Regions from separate parts of the Homo sapiens genome. Here regions 1, 2 and 4 are each linked to region 3. Evidence: fine-mapped expression QTL. A gene starts in region 3. Each other region holds a variant in brackets. All regions are shown on one strand. Distances are between the middles of the regions.

Region 1 (4,168 bases), 46 kb after region 3:
ACTCAAGCCCTAGTGAGCTTCCAATGGCCAGGCCAGGGACAAACCAGTGACAAGATGGCAAACGGCACAGGCAATGGCCTAAACCTCCAGGAGTTTCTGGAAACAGCCACTTCCCTTCCTTTGTTACTCTGTCATTTCTAGTTTGTCCCTTCACAGAAATAAGAGACACTTTAGCAGTAGAATTTGGAAGAAGCCTCAGACCATGTCCTTTAGGATGGAAGGGTGTGGTCAAAGAACAGAAGATGACATCAGAGGAAAGATGATGCTGGTTGGAGTTGAGGAACCAGCAGGAAAGGTCAGGAGAGGAAGGGGAGCCCAACCCCAGTGCAAGGGTCTGTTTGGGTTCAGATGATGGTAGCATAGAGCACAGACTTGGGAGTCTTACGGGTTGGGAGTTTAAACCAGGCTCTGCCACATAAAACATGCTTTTTTTTTTTTTTGAGATGCAGTCTTGCTCTGTCACCAGGCTTTAGTGCAGTGGCACGATCACAGCTCACTGCAACTTCCAACTCCCTGGTTCAAGTGATTCTCCCGCCTCAGCCTCCCGAGTAGTTGGGATTACAGGCAGGTGCCACCATGCCCAGCTAATTTTTGTGTTTTTAGTAGAGATGGGGTTTCACCATGTTGGCCAGGATGGTCTTGATCTCCTGACCTCGTGATCTGCCCACCTCAGCCTCCCAAAGTGCTGGGATTACAGGTGTGAACCACCGTGCCCAGCCTAAAACATGCCATTCTTTTACTTCTCTGAATCTCAGCCCCCTCACCTTTAATACAGAATTGTGTTACCTCCATCTCACAGAATGCCAATGGGAGGGTCAGATGAGTTAATATATGTAAACCCCTTTGCTCAGTACATGGCAGATGGTAATCTCTTATTTCTATAATAATTGCTCTTTTCATAATAAGACTCAGAGTCTGTGATGTTTGCTTAGGACACTTGGCAGGGAAAAGGGTGCCTATACAGGGAATCCAGAGGGAGTGAGGGGCATAGAAGCCATAGACAGATATTCCCAATTCTAATGGGTGGGATGGAGGTATAATAAGTGTAAGCAAGTGGATTTGGTATCCAAAGGGTCAGAAAGGAGGAACTGTGACAGAGAATAGCCATGACCTTGAGTTGAATGACTGCCAGGGTTACACCAGGCCAGACAAGTTCTAAACAGAAGCCAAAAACCAGGTTGGGATTCCCCTAGTCTGAACCACAGGTCAAGGTCAGACACTGGAGAGACATTGTCAAGTATCTAGCAGCAGAACAGAGCTGGAAGAAAATAGAGCCAGAAAAGGCATTGAGGGTATGAGTATCAAACCTAAGCTCTTTGAAAACTGCAAGGAACAAGATGAGAGACTGAATGGTGGAAGAAGGGGGCAAGGTGTCCACTCTTTTGGCCAAAAGATAGTACAGACCATTGATAAACCACAAAAGATAGTACAGACGATTGATAAACCATGTGGAACCCTAGCCGCACCACCTGCTAGCTTTATGAACTTTGGCAAGATGCTTAAACTCTCTGGCCTTTAGAGTCATAGTCTATTAACTGGGGATATAAAGGTAATAATACTACCTAACATGGAGAGTTGTGTGGAGATTCAAGGAGGGAATACACATTTGAAAGTGCCTGGAACATAGCCAGAGACCAATTAAGTGTTAGCTGTTGCTGTTATTTGATGAGCTCCAGCTCTAGGATTTTTAGAATAGGGTTGAAGAGAGTACCTGAAGTTTCCAATGTGTACATCACAACTCACTAGCGTAACAAAGCAGAGGGAATGGAGAGCAGGAGCCCCAGCTGAGAAACAGGAGCATGCTAGAGAAGAAGGCTACCTGGAATAGATTGTTAGTGAAGAAAGGCAGCGGGAAGGAGATGAGAAGCCAGGCCAAGCTGAGAAGAGGGTATCCACATCTGTGCTATTGCCAGAATCTTGGGGAGGATCGCCATGGAATCCAAATATCTGCATGCACATGCACGCACAGGCGCACACACACACACACACACACACACACACACACAAAACCTACAGTCATATTCCAGAATTGTTCCTTTCTTATTCTTTCAGAAACAATGAATATGGATCTGCAATGCTTCAGGGCCCTATGCTGGGCACTGTTGCCCAGGACTGATGTTGTTCCTTCCTCACAGAACGTATGGTCCAGTGGAGGAGAGGAGGCTTCCTGAAGGAGGCAGGATCCTGGCACTGAATAGGAGTCTGCTGCAGAGGAAGCCAGTGAGAGGAGTGTGGGATGGGAAGGTTTGGAGTATCTAGAAAAGGGAGTATAAGAAAGGCAAAGGGACAGCATGTGCAGAAGGCCAAAGGTGTAGAGGCAGCATGTCACATTGAAGAGGGTCAGGGTGCCAGCACCAGAAGAAGAGGAATGGGAAATGGGCACCAAAGGAGCAGGTGCTTTTATACTTACTGGTAAGGACACTGAAGCCCAGGGTACATAACCTGCCAAGGTCAATCATCAAGTAAATGGCAATACTGGAATTCAAACCCAAATAGAACACTCTCTGAAATCCCTGTTCTTATTCATTGCTGCCTGGACCTGCTGGGTATACCAAGGGCAAGCAGCCCCTGTCCAGAACAGCAGAAGGCAGGGGTCTCCACAGCTGCC[G/A]ACACATTATTCTCCCTACCTAGGAAGGGTATTTGGGTGGGAGACTGGGCAGCCATTGGGGAGGCTATTAGGGAACCTCTAAGGAAAGTTTGAATAATTTTTTATCTTCCTTGTCTGGATAAAGTACAGTCTTGAAAACTGAAAAACCTTTGGATCAGAAATTTGAACTTGGTGCTGTCTTTCCTAAGGTGTCAGGAAAGATGAAAATAAAAGTAAAAATTATTTCTACAAACGAGAAGGCTTAAGGAAGATAGTTCATGCCAAATCATCAGCAAGTATGAAATCCTGACTTTAACACACCTGCTGTTTGTCATAAATTCCCTCTCACTGATGCCCACTCAACTTTTACGTATGGCACTCAATGTCAATCATCCCCACCTGGGCAGGATAGGCAAGGGAAGCAGGAGATCATGTCCGCGATGGTTACTGCTGTGGCCCCAGAAGAATCTCTGCCTCACGGCTCTTGCCCACTCTTCTCTGATTACCCTCTTCGTCTTCTTCAGTAGATGTCATTGTGTCAATTGATGTCCAACCACTGCTAGAAGTAACTTCATTTTTGTAGGACCTGGACAGCCTTGAAGATGGTGAAGTAGCCTAGTTTCAGTCTTTCTGGAATGAATTTAGGTTGATTTATGGTCATTTTGGTAACTTTTCACTTTATTTCTTCCTTTCTGTATCTTTTCTGACAGTTTTGTTGGCATGGGGTTTAATCATTAAATTCAAGTACCAATGAAAGGCTATTTTAACAAAGGCTTGGGCACTTTACTAAGAATATCATCATTCTTTCCTTCTTTCTTTCCTTTCTCTTTTCCTTCCCCTTGCCTTCTTCTCTTCTACCCTCCTCCTTCTCTTTCCTTCTCCCTCCCTTCTTTCTTTAAACACACATAGGGCACTCTCTAAGATGCCAAATTGCATGTTGGATGTGGGGGGGTGTAGTCTTTTTTTTTTTTTTTTTTGGAGACGGAGTCTTGCTCTGTCGCCCAGGCTGGAGTGCAGTGGCACAATCTCGGCTCACCGCAAGCTCTGCCTCCCGGGTTCACGCCATTCTCCTGCCTCAGCCTCCCGAGTAGCTGGGACTACAGGCGCCCGCCACCACGCCTGGCTAATTTTTTTTTTTTTTTTTGGTAGAGACGGAGTTTCACCATGTTAGCCAGGATGGTCTCGATCTCCTGACCTTGTGATCCGCCCATCTCAGCCTCCCAAAGTTCTGGGATTACAGGCATGAGCCACCGTGCCCGGCCAAGAAGGTGTAGTCTTATATGTATGAGAGACAGTCTTTGCCCTTCAGTTGTTCATAGCTTTAGAGAGGGGAAAAAGCAGGTAAAAAAATAAATATTTGTTGTCAATTGAAATGTAGTCCTGTGTGGTAAACCACTGGCCTTCAACAACTATGTCTTCTCATATTTTCAGGTCTATGAGAATATTCCAGCTTGGAATATTTTAGGACAAGAATACTCTAGGGCTGAACTCAGCTAGTCACTCCTGTTTTACATGACCAATAAGCTGGTTTGGCTCCAGGCTGAGAGCTTGGTTCATGTCTGTTCCCTGTGGATTCATTCT
Region 2 (4,168 bases), 98 kb after region 3:
ATTGTTTGTGACTCCTTTGTGAATGATAGGAAACCGCTTCCACCTGGGTAAACAGTGGAGGACATTTCTGGGTTCAGATAACTTAAAGGATGAGAAGCAGAGCAGGTTTAGGGTCAGTTCGACCAGTGGTTCCACAGTATCACTGAGACCTCAGTTTCTTTGAATTTTGTGATTCTGCTTGCCTTGGTGTTGACTTCATCCTGAGCCTGGCTTCCTGGAGCATGGGCATATGGCTGCAGCAGGTTCAGTCTTACATGCCAAACACTTCCTGTTTCCCATTGTAAAACCCCCTTTCCCATACCCCTCCCCTTAAGTCGCATTGGCCCAAACTGAGCCCCATGTTCAAAGCTAAACCAATCCCTTTGTCCAGGACTTTGCCAACTTTTCATCAGGTTAAGCCTGGATCATTTGAACCAGTGACTATGGGCAGGGGAGACAAATTGAACCCATCAGGGTCCACACCTGGAGCTGAGGTCAGATTTGCTCCATACCACCCCCATGCCCCACATTGTAAGGTGACAGCACAGTGGTCAGGGCTGGAAAGGAAGGGGTCAACCGTGGCATCCACTATAGCCTTGAAGCAGGATTCTGGGCAGCTGTCATTGGGAGTTTGCATATATGGGAGGAGTTAGAGATGAAGGGAGTTCTCCTGGGGAAGCCTCCCTGCTGTGATTGTCAGTGTTGGCCCCACGCTCGTGGACAGCATCCAACTGTCAACTTCACACATGGTCCCTCATTGCTGTCCTAATATCTGGGGGGGTCTCCTTTAACACTCCTTGTTAGAGAATATGGATCATTTTTTTTTCCTTAGAAACCATTTCTTTTTTTTCATCACTGACAATTGCCAACATACAAAGAAGAAAAGAGAAGCAACAACATTCCCGCACATACTCACAAATGGGTGTTTTAAAAAGTAGTGATTCTGAACCTTTGGGGTCAGGTCATAGATCCTTTGGGAAACCTAAGGAAAGCCGTGGGCTGTCTCTAGAAAAACATGCATGCAGGTGCCTTCCTGTGTGATTTCAGAAAGCCAAGCTGCAGAGCGCACGTTGTACCCAGTGGGGGACTTGGAGGAGGTTGTTGTTTTTGTTTTCTTTGTAGGCAGTGAGGCAAGTCCAGGAACTGGATTGCATTCACAAAGGAGGAGGGTTGAGGAGGGTACAAGTCCAGTTATTATAATGAAGTAATTTTTAATCTGATCACTGACAGTGACTGTTTCACTCTGCCAGGAGTGTTCAGAAGTAGCTCCCTGAGGATGGTGGTGTGTCCACCTTCTTTCTCAGCACAGGCCTTGGCACAATTTTTTTTTAACTTTCTTCTTGCAACAAGCATATATTGAGTTCTTTGTGTTTATGTTCCAGGATTGTGGTGGTCTTGGCTTACTAAGGTGTTAGACGGTCCCTTCATGTTTCTGGTCACGAGTTCTCTGAATCCACTTTAATTGTATTTTGCTTTGAAATCAGGATTTGGATAATGAGCCAGCATTGACCCCTTTTCTCTGTAGCATGAAAGTTCTGAGGTCTTAGTGCCCTGTTGTTTTCCTGGAACCCCTTCTTTGTCTGTGTCTGTTTGTTTCTCTCTGTCTCTGTGTCTTTCTGTCTCTCTCTCTCATGCCTCTCAGTTCGGCATGTTACCATCTTGGCTCCACACAAAGCCACTTTCTCTCCCCCTCCCTCCCTCTCTGTCTCTCTTCCTCCTTCCTCTGTATCTGTTCCCCTCACCCTTTCTAATGTGTATCTGTATATGCTCTATCTGTTTGTATTTTTGTAAGATATAATTTCAAGTGACAAAAAGGTAATGCTCAAATCTCATCTGTATCACATAACGGAGGGAAAGTGCCTGCCTGGAATAACATCCTATACCTCCACAACTCAGCATGCCTTCCTTGACCTGGGTTCATATTAAAAGAAATGACAACAGTTTTCTTAAAAATGACTTTAGCCAGTCAAACAGGATTCTGTTCTGAAGGACCTTCCTCTAAAGGCAGACCTGAAGTCTGTGGAGTGGCCTGGTAAGAATTTTCTGTGTCTTCAGTAAAGACAAATGCACTATCTAGTGGGGAATTTAGTGAGATAAATAGCAAAGTTAAGAATAATGGCACAGAATAGGAAGGACTGAAGCAGAAGCTATTAGGCAATGGAATCCATGAATAAATAGGAACCATCCCATGAAGGGTGAGCAAGTAGTCGAAAGAAGTTAGCATGAGTAGAAGAAAAGGAGAATAAGAGTAAGATGGAGC[T/C]GGGGCAGCTCCCATTTATTCTTCTCAGTGAAGGAATACTGCCAAGGGCAGCTGCCTGTTAAGTGTTGCTGTGGAAACACTTAACAAATGGAAACTTGACAAGAAGTATGTAACATGTTCCTGAAGTACAAGAAGCTTCTAATACTGAGCAAGAAAATGATACATGTCAACTGTAAGGATGCCAAAACAAAATGAGTGGTTACCAACGAGTAATTTCACTCTCACGTACCATTTGACAATAGTTAGAGACATTTTTGGTGGTCACAAAAGGGTGCTGCTACTGGTGGACTGCTGTGTAGTGAGTGGAGGCTGGAGATGCTGCCACAATTCTACAATGCACTGGATAGCTGCCTAGCGACAGAATCATTCAGCCCCAACATCAAGAGTGCCAAGGTTGAGAAACACTTACCTAAACCACGACACGTTGGTTCAAAACAAATTAACCTTTCTTTCTAATTCTGACATATTTCAAATCAATTCTTAGCCCTTTAAACTATGTGCTTCTACTATGAATATCACTAGTCATTATAATTGAAAACATCTGAAGTTAAGTACATAAACTTCTACAATTTAAAGTTATTATTTTGTTTTGAAAGATTCCACTCCTTATACAAGAAAAGGAATATGTTGAAAGGTTCTCTGAGTTGTATTATTGCAGTGTTGCTGATGTAAGTAAAAGGAATCGGCAGAAATGGATATTTTCAGACAATAGGGAAATAATGAAAGTGATGAAATTGCAGAGTCAAATCTGTTACCTTTATAAAGCAAAATGTCCAAAGCCCATTGCCCTGTAGCCCTAGTCCATCTAAATGTGCGTATTTCGGCCTTCTGCAGACTTAATATACTTATTCAATAGCTGACTCTAGGCAGGTAAGTGCTCAATAATGTGGCCATGTTAGAGTTACACATGGACGGGTAAATGTTTACCTAGTGTGATTTCAACTTCAGAGAGAAAAAAATATATTCTTCACTGACAAAGGGGAAATGATTGCCTTGTCTTTTCAAAGTCATTAGATTCTACCATTAGATACAGAAAAATCCTAGGCAGGGTAACATACAGATTGAGCATCTTAATCCAAAATACTGAAATCTGAAATGCTCCAACATCTGAAACTTTTTGAGTGCTGACATGATGCCATAAGTGGAAAATTCCACACCTGACCTTAGGTGATGGGTCACAGTCAAAATGCAGTCAGATTTGTTTTTATGCGTAAAATTATTTAAAATATTTTATCTAATTAGTTTTAGGCTATTTGTATAAGGTGTATACAAAACATAAATGAACTTTCTGTTTAGACTTGGATTACATCCCCAACATATCTGATTATGTATATGCAAATATTTCAAAGTCTTAAAAAAAAAAAACCCAAATCCACAATACTTCTGGTCCCAAGGTAAGGGGATCCTTAGCCTGTATTAAATTTTAATAGCTGTTACCATTTTAATAGGAATTAATCTTAGAATTTTTAGAGATTTAACAGAGGTTTAAAATTCTTGTTGTTTTTAGGGTGGAGAAGAGAGCAGTTTAGAACAGAGGGCTGAGACTTCAGTAGGGAGCTTTCACAAGGCAGGGGCAAACCATGAACAACATGAAGCTTTGAGGAAAGCATAACACATCGAATGCTTCATAATTGAACTAAGTTTCTCCTAAATAGTTTACATTTATTTATCAATAATGTTATTTTTATTTTCCTTAAAAAATCTAGTAAGGTTGCTATGACAATTTTACATGTGTGGAAACTGAGGCCTGATTAGGAGTTCATCAATGTGCCCAGGGTCACATAGTGAGCAGATGGCAGAATGGGGTTTTGAATTGAGTTGTGACTGACCAGACAGAATGTACTTTAAAAAAATTGTCCCTCAAAATCCTTTCATGAAGATTATGTGAACGAACATTTAATGACTGGCCATAAAGTAAGGAAAACTACC
Region 3 (4,168 bases):
TTGTAAGCAATAACTGTAATGAAATATATTATGGGCTATGTAGCTAAACATATAAGACAATGTACAATGAATGCATAGGCATTATAATGGATAACATATTATGTACAAGATACTATAGGCACTGTGTTACTGGGAGATTATAATAATAATTAGTGAATCGTGTATTACCATCATCGTCAGGTATTCGTAATCTCAATGATAATAAGTAACACCCATGCCACCACTGTGTGCCAGCCACTATTCTAAGTGCTTTACTTGTGTCCATTGGGTCATTTAAGCCCTCATGATGCCCTTGTGTAGTGGGAACACCTAGAAGAGCGCAGTGATTCCTGCACATGCGGGAGGCAGGCTTGGGGAGCAGGGGTGCCCTCGCCACCCAGCCTTCCGCATGTGAGGCCCTCCGCACTGTACACGGTTCAGAACCCACCCAGTCGCATGATGTCATATATCACATGGGTATTATGTTTACATTTGTTACACACATTCTTATATTGTATAATTATATATTTTACATTTATTATGCATTTCTTAGTTTCTTATATACAATGTTTCTACATGTGTGTAAATTACTTAGGTTTATAATTATCTGTTACTTTTTTTTTTTTTTTTTTTGAGATGGAGTCTCGCTCTGTTGCCCAGGCTGGACTGCAGTGGCGCGATCTCGGCTCACTGCAAGCTCCGCCTCCCGGGTTCACGCCATTCTCCTGCCTCAGCCACCCGAGTAGCTGGGACTACAGGCGCCCGCCACCACGCCCAGCTAATTTTTTGTGTGTTTAGTAGAGACGGGGTTTCACCGTGTTAGCCAGGATGGTGTGGATCTCCTGACCTCGTGATCCGCCCGCCTCGGCCTCCCAAAGTGCTGGGATTATAGGCGTGAGCCACCGTGCCCGGCCATCTGTTACATATTTTATATCTACTTATGAATTTATCAAATAACTTTGGTCATTTTATAAATTATAATCTTTGTTATATTCATTTGTTGTATTGTTTTATGCAGTTATGCAATGTTTATTGTATAAACGGTCATTTATAATACTTTTATATATTTGTCATATTTCTAAACTTGATACATGTCACCATATATCAGTTTATGCGTTTGTATGGTATGTTTCTATGTCTGGTACATAAGCGATTACACTTTAAACACGTCATCAACTGTAATGTACAGTGCCTAGCATTCTGCGTGAGCCTTCCTAATGCTGGGCTTGCACTACCTGTATTGTAACGTTTAGATTTTTTGTTTGGTTTTGTTTTGTTTGAGATGGGATCTCACTCTGTGGCCCAGGCTGGAGTGCAGTGGCACCATCTCAGCTGTGCAGTGGAACCATCTCAGCTCACTGCAACCTCTGCCTCCCAGGTTCAAGCGAGTCCCCTGTCTCTGCTCCCTAGTAGCTGGGATTACAGGCATGCGCCCATGCCCAGTTGATTTTTGTATTTTTAGTAGAGACGGGGTTTCGCTGTGTTGCCCAGGCTGGTCTCGAACTCCTGAGCTCAAGCGATCCTCCCACCTCGGCCTCCCAAAGTGCTGGGATTACAGGTGTGAGCCACCGCACCTGGCCCACGTTTAGAATCTTTATAGGCAGTGACGAACGCCCCTACGAAGTGTGCGCCCAATATGTACTAAGTGCTTTTCACCCACATCATTTAATCCTTAGACCAGTTTGGTCATTCATGTCCCCATTTCACCAAGGGAGAAGCCGAGGTCAGAGGGGCCAGGTAGACCGCCTGGACCACACGCGGATGGCCGGGACGCGGATTCGGGACGGGAAGCGGATTCGGGCCCGGACGCGGATTCGAGCCCGGCGTTCACACCCTCACCACGCCACAGCCTCCGTGTTCCTCTTCGCCCTGCTGCAGCCCCTTCCTTCCTGTGGTCACAGGGGACAGTCAGGTCGCCAGAAGCGGCGGGGCCGGGGCTGTCCAGCGCAGCAGGGCCGCCCGCCCTCCCCTGCGGCGCCCGCCCCACCTGTCCCGCCCGCAGCCAGGTTGTTCCGGGAGCGCGACGAGGACACCGGGAACGAGGGTGTGCACGGTCCGTCCCGGCCTGGCCGTGGACGTCGCGCTCCGGGGCCGGGGGGCAGAGAGTGAAGACGGAGACAGCAAGAGCGACAGAGAAGTGCTGGGGAGAGAAACACGGAGAGACCCCCCGAGGCGGGGAGACACCGGGGACACCGAGACAGAAAGGCAGAGCCCGCCGTGCGCGGAGGACAGGCGTACGCAGGGCCAGGGCCGGGGCGCGCCGCTCGCGGACCCCGTGTGCCACTCACGCTGAACTCGCCGGCGAGGACTGCCCCCTCCCGGCCGCCCCGCGCTTCCAGCCGCTCCAGGAAGCTCCGCGCCGAGTCCAGGCTGCGGCTCATGGCGCCGCGGGCCAGCAAGGTCCAGCCCGGCCGCCGCGCGCGCGGCGAGTGTGGACGCCGCGGGAGGCGGAGGCCGGTGACTGAGTCCCCGCCCTTGCCTCGGCAGCCAATGGAAGCGCGCAGCGGCGGGCAGGGCGCCCCAGCCACCGTGTTCTGAGCCCGCGTAGCCCCACCCCGGGCGCTCGGGCCGCTGTGGCCGGAGCCCTAGGTCCTCGCGGGCTGCCCTGAGCAGAGTCCAGCGCCGGCGCTTCCCCTTTTTTTCGGCTGCCGCGCCCACTGGTGGGGGGGTGGCACGGTCCCAGGTTCGCTCCCTGCCGCTTGGGACCCGCCCTCAGATCGGGATCCGCGCCCAGGGGCCGACCTCCGGGTGCCGGCTCTGGGTGGACGGCCGAGCGGTCTCGCCGGGCCCTCCCGCCCGTCCCCTGGGAGCCAGGCCGCGCGGAGTCCGAGCTGGGGCGGGCAGCAGCCTTGGGTGGAGACGGTCGCCGAGATCAGGCTGCCCCTCGTGCCAGAGGACCCCGGGTCGGGGGCGTCCCGCGCTGTGCGCTCCAGCCGGGCCCAAGGGAGGCCGGGGAGGGGCAGCCACGCCGTGGGAAAGGCCAAGTGGCAGCGGGATCTTCTCTGTGTATTTCCCGAGGAATTTGTGGTTCCTTTTTCCCGGATGCGCTGGGGCACCAGGGTCAGTCCTGTGTGAGCATCTCGACCTGCACAAGCCTGCTGGGAAACAGAACTGAGGCACTGGAAGTGGGTTCTGGGGAACGAAGAGCTTCTCTTTTTTGCCTGCCCTGACACTCCCATCTTCAGAAAGTGTGCAGAGGTCAGAGGAGAGCCGCCGTTCCAGCTTCCGGGATCACCGAGGGGAGGCTGGAGAGAATGGACTGGCACCTGGGTCTCTTCAAGGACAGGCCTAGGTTAGCCCCCTTCTCGCCGAGGTCGGAAGAATTAAGAGGGGTGTCACTGGAAGGGGCGTCAGTGGACACCAGTTTGAGGTCGTTGAGGGGTTGAAAGGTAGCATTGGGGCCTGGATGTGTGCCTGAGTCTCTGAAGGGTCAACAGGGGCATGATGTCAGGTGGTCAATTTAATTCACTAGGGGCTATCAGAGTATTTAAGGGCACACTTTCTTAAAGGTCCCGGTAGGAAGTGGTTTTGGCTTTGCTATCGCTGCCCCAGCTGCTTAACTCAGCTGTGGCAGCATGAAAGCAGACAATATAGTGTGGCTGTGTCCCAAAGAAACCATTTATGGACAAAGAAATCAGAATTTCATGTAATGTTCATGTGTCATGAATTATTCTAGTGTGTGTGTGTGGCCTACAGGCTGTCGTTTGCTGACCTTGGCTGAAGTGATGGAGCGATCAAAGTGGCTCTGTGGGGATCAGCAGCTAGGGCTGTTTGATTTATCGTGGGGTCCGCAGGGGTCACTGTGAGATTCATGTTCATCATTTATCAGTTTCATCTTTGAGCATTCTCAGGGAGGTAATTGTTTAGGATGGTGGTGATAGGGAATTCATTGGAAGCCAGTCGGGGTCCCTTGGATGTTCATGGGGGGGGGGGTGTCAGTAGATATTAATGACAGTCATTGGGAGGCCAGTGGATACTTGGGACAAGAAGTGAAAGTAATTGTGGGGCCATTGGGATTTGGAGTGTTAGTAATTGAAGGGTCCGAAGAGTCTGGGAAGTCATTGAGAGCTCTGCTCAGTGCATGATAGTGACTCTCAGTATAATCATTGAGGGTTTGTGGATGGCCATGGAGATCCAGGGAGGTAGAATACAGAAGCATCAGTAAGCTTTCAGAAAATAAAGACATTTT
Region 4 (4,168 bases), 32 kb after region 3:
TGGTGTACCCCTGTAATCCCAGCTACTCGGGAGGCTGAGAAAGGAGAATCGCTTGAACCTGGGAGGAGGAGGTTGCAGTGAGCTGTGTTCGTGCCATCGCATTCTGCACTCCAGCCTGGGGGACAGAGTGAGACTCCATCTCAAAAAGACTGGTGGAATGCCTTCCTGTAGGGGAAAGTCTGACTTCTTTTTAAGAAAAAGAAAAAAAATATAAGGCAAGATTGTGACCCAGGATAAGAGTATCTGTCACACAGAAGGATCTGTCAAATGAGTGAAAATTTAAGATCTCTAGCATGTGAAATTCTAAGGTCTTCTGGATTGGTTTCATAGAAGAAGCACTTTATCCTTGCTCAACCAGTTAGTGTCATTTAGGTTCAAAATCATATATATTGCATACATTTATTACTAATGAAAGTCTCTTAGAATTCAACCTTATGGGACACAGAGTTACACGAGTCTTTTGTATATGTATTTCTTTTCTCTTTTTTTTTTTTTTTTTTTGAGATGGAGTCTTGCTCTCTCACCCAGGCTGGAGTGCAATGGTGCAATCTTGGCTCACTGCAACCTCTGCTTCCCAGGTTCAAGTGATTCTCCTGCCTCAGCCTCCTGAGTAGCTGGGATTTTTGGTGTGCACCACCACACCCGGCTAATTTTGTATTTTTAGTAAGGATGGGGGTTTCACCATGTTGGCCAAGCTGGTCTTGAACTCCTGACCTCATGATCCGCCCACCTCAGCCTCCCAAAGTGCTGGGATTACAGGTGTGAGCCACCACGCCTGGCCCTGTATATATATTTCTTAATGCTGAAAGCCTTCAGACTTAACTGTAAGACTAGAAGAGGATGTTGATGGACTTATAGTGAGTGAAGCAGAAGCAGCAGCAGTTAAATCAAACTCATCTTAAAGACCTCTAGTTAGTAATCTCATCCATGTCAATTTTTTTTTACACCAAATTTGCACAGTTAAAACCCACAGGTTCCATAAATTATGTGATAGAGACCATGTAATTAAAGTGGATGATCATGTTTTTTTGCTTTCCTTTAGGAAGAAAGTAGTATTTCTGGGTTTTGTTTACTGAACACCTAAATGGAATTTTTAAGGTGAATTGATATACCATTAGCAATCAGATGCAGACTTTTTTGGAGTTAAAAATAATGAAATGGAGTATTTCATGTTATAAAGAAATGAAAAAACCTTTAATATTTTCCAGATCTTATGTTCTCTCTCTCTATATATGTGTCCAATATATACATATATATATTCCAGATATTATATTTCTCTCCTTAGATATATATTGTCCAGTGAATCTACCAAATGAGCAAATTAAAAGGAGATGGTTTTATGTTTCAGTAGATGGGTGTCTACTGAGTAGGGTCTATATTTAAATAAAAATGGTTATAATGCAAAAAAGCATGGATTATATGGATTCTGAGGGAGATGTATGTATAGTGAGAACGTCTCTGTGGTTGCCCTTTATTACTGAAGAATTATATATAAGTGAACAATTTTACTTAAATGTGCTTATCTTTTATGCTTCCTCATCTTTTCTGCTCTGCAGAAATGATTTTAGACTCTAACCTCATATATTTTGCTACTGTTGTCCTGGAGCATGTTGACAACCTGTTGTTCTTAAACCAGAGATGCTTGTTACTTCTGTGTAACTCTCTTAGAAATCATAAACCAGTTGATGAAAGAGGCAGAAGTGGGATAAAATGGTAGAAGAAGGGAGACAAATTAGAGAGGAAATGTGAGAAACTGGCTGTTAAACAGAATTCCCAAGAAGAAAAAAAGGAATCTTTGTATTATTTTGAAAAAAAACTCCCACAGTTATCAAAAACCACCATCAACCTTAGCCAAAAATATGAAGTGACTGAATGCTTATATGAAATTTGTGAACTTTAAAGTAGTTTTTATCAATTCTGTGAAGAAAGTCATTGGTAGCTTGATGGGGATGGTATTGAATCTATAAATTACCTTGGGCAGTATGTCCATTTTCACCATATTGATTCTTCCTACCCAGAGCATGGAATGTTCTTCCATTTGTTTGTATCCTCTTTTATTTCAATGAACAGTGGTTTGTGAATATCCAAATAAACACAGTAAGAAATGACAAAGGGGACATTACCACCAACCCCAAGGAAATACAGAAATCCATCAGAGACTATTGTGAACACCTCTTTGCACACAAAGTAGAAAACCTAGAACAAATGGGTAAATTCCTGGAAATATACAACTCCCCAAGAGAGAACCAGGAAGAAACTCAAACCCTAAACATGCTAATAATGAATTCTTAAATGGGATCAATAATAAAAAGCCTACCAAAAGCCCAGGACCAGATTGATTCACAATTGAATTCTACCAAACATATAAGGAAGAGCTGGTACCATTCCTACTGAAACTATTCCAAAAATTGAGGAGAAGGGGCTCCTCCCTAACTCACTCTATGAGACCAGTGCCATCTTGATGCCC[A/C]AACCTGGCAGAGACACAATAAAAAAGAAAAGTTCAGGCCAATATCCTTGATAAACATAGATGCAAACATCCTCAACAAAATACTAGCCAACTGAATCCAGCAACGCATCAGAAAGCTCATTCACCATGATAAAGTAGGCTTTATCCCTGGGATACAAGTTTGGTTCAATATATGCAAATCAATAAATGTAATTCATCCATCTAAACAGAACAAAAAATAAAAACCACATGATCATCTCAATAGAGGTAGAAAAGGATTTTGATAAAATTCAGCATCCCTTCATGTTAAAAACCGCCAACAAACTGGCATTAAAGGAACATAACTCAAAATCATAACAGCAATCTATGACAAACCCACAGTCAACATCATACTGAACAGGCAAAAGCTGGAAGCATTCCCCTTGAGAACTGGAGCAAGACAAGGATGCCCATTCTCACCACTCCTATTCAATATACTACCGGAAGTCCTAGCCAGAGCAATCAGGCAAGAGAAAGGAACAAAAGGTATCCTAAAATAAGAAGAGATGAAGTCAAATTTATCTCTGTTTGCAGATGATATGATTTTATACCTAGAAAACTCCATAGTATCTCCCCAAAAGCTCCTAGGTATGATAAACAACTTCAGCAGGGTTTTTGGATATAAAATCAATTTACAAAAATAATAAGCATTTCTATACACCAATAGTGTTCAAGCTGAGTGCCAAATCTAGAACACAATCACATTCATAATAGCCACACACACAGAACATAAAATACCTAGGAATACAGCTAAGCAGGGCCCGCAGCACCTGGGATGTGGAAGCCTCAGAGGAGTCAAGGCCTGGGTCTCTCTATGAGCAGCAAAATGAAAACAACACTTTAGCTGGTTTCCAGTGCACCCATAATCTCCCTATAGTGCACTTTAGAGACAATTTTAAAGTGATTTAACTCACAGAATTGTCTATATAATATTTTTAAGGTATACACTTTTAAACATGTTATTCACATTATAGAAAAGTGTATAATGAGAGAAATAGTTCCCATAATGTATCAACTTCTGGGCTAAAAATTCTTTAGATAAAATCCAATATCCATTTTCTATCCACGTACCCCTATGTAAATATATACTTTACTGAGGAACCTTAGAAGGAAAGTGGGAAGATGGTTCATGTTCTTGAATAGAAAGAATTTTCTCAAGATGTGAGCTCTTTCTGTATTTATCAATTTTGCCTAAACCAAATAAAAACACCAAAGTTTTAACGTTTAAAAATTACACTTGCTGTCTTTTACTGTTATGATGACATTAAAATTTTTTTGTAATGCAACGAAAAATGACTTGCCTTCCTCGATATCAAAATGTGCCATTAATTTCTATAAGTCATTTACTAACAGCTGAAAGACATAAATGAATGGAACAGACTAGAAAATCCAGAAACACCCATATATATGAAATAATTTAGAACTTGATAATGGTGACATTTCATATTAGTAGAAAAAGATGAATTATTCATAAATGGAATGCCTGCTGTTTGGAGAAAACTAGCTGATTTTTATGTCACAAAAATAGGTTCCTGGTGGAATATAGATTAAAAATTTTAAATATACAAAATGAGAAAACTACCAGAAGAAAACACAAATGCCTATTTATACAGATACTTTTTTTTTTTTTTTTGAGAAAGAGAGTCTCGCCCTGTCACCCAGGCTAGAGTGCAGTGGCGCGAT

Evidence for each region. PIP is the estimated chance that this variant, and not a neighbour inherited with it, causes the effect.
Region 1: its variant is the best candidate, but not a certain one, in a credible set for the expression of PTPN18 in cerebellar hemisphere (GTEx, PIP 0.56).
Region 2: its variant is the best candidate, but not a certain one, in a credible set for the expression of PTPN18 in transverse colon (GTEx, PIP 0.87).
Region 4: its variant is the best candidate, but not a certain one, in a credible set for the expression of PTPN18 in whole blood (TOPMed, PIP 0.76).

Annotation. Positions count from the first base shown.
Region 1 is chr2:130,308,085-130,312,252 of GRCh38, reverse strand. No RefSeq gene overlaps it. Among named protein-coding and RNA genes, the nearest start is that of TRE-TTC1-1, 27 kb to the left of the region's middle. The variant G/A (reference allele first, on the strand shown) is at 2,609.
Region 2 is chr2:130,256,665-130,260,832 of GRCh38, reverse strand. No RefSeq gene overlaps it. Among named protein-coding and RNA genes, the nearest start is that of TUBA3E, 60 kb to the right of the region's middle. The variant T/C (reference allele first, on the strand shown) is at 2,240.
Region 3 is chr2:130,354,300-130,358,467 of GRCh38, reverse strand. It overlaps PTPN18 (protein tyrosine phosphatase non-receptor type 18), which reads right to left and starts at 2,412. Exons shown (of 15, transcript NM_014369.4): 1 at 2,268-2,412. The coding sequence starts at 2,360. RefSeq lists silencers at 1,973-2,022, 2,163-2,832.
Region 4 is chr2:130,322,125-130,326,292 of GRCh38, reverse strand. No RefSeq gene overlaps it. Among named protein-coding and RNA genes, the nearest start is that of TRE-TTC1-1, 13 kb to the left of the region's middle. The variant A/C (reference allele first, on the strand shown) is at 2,468.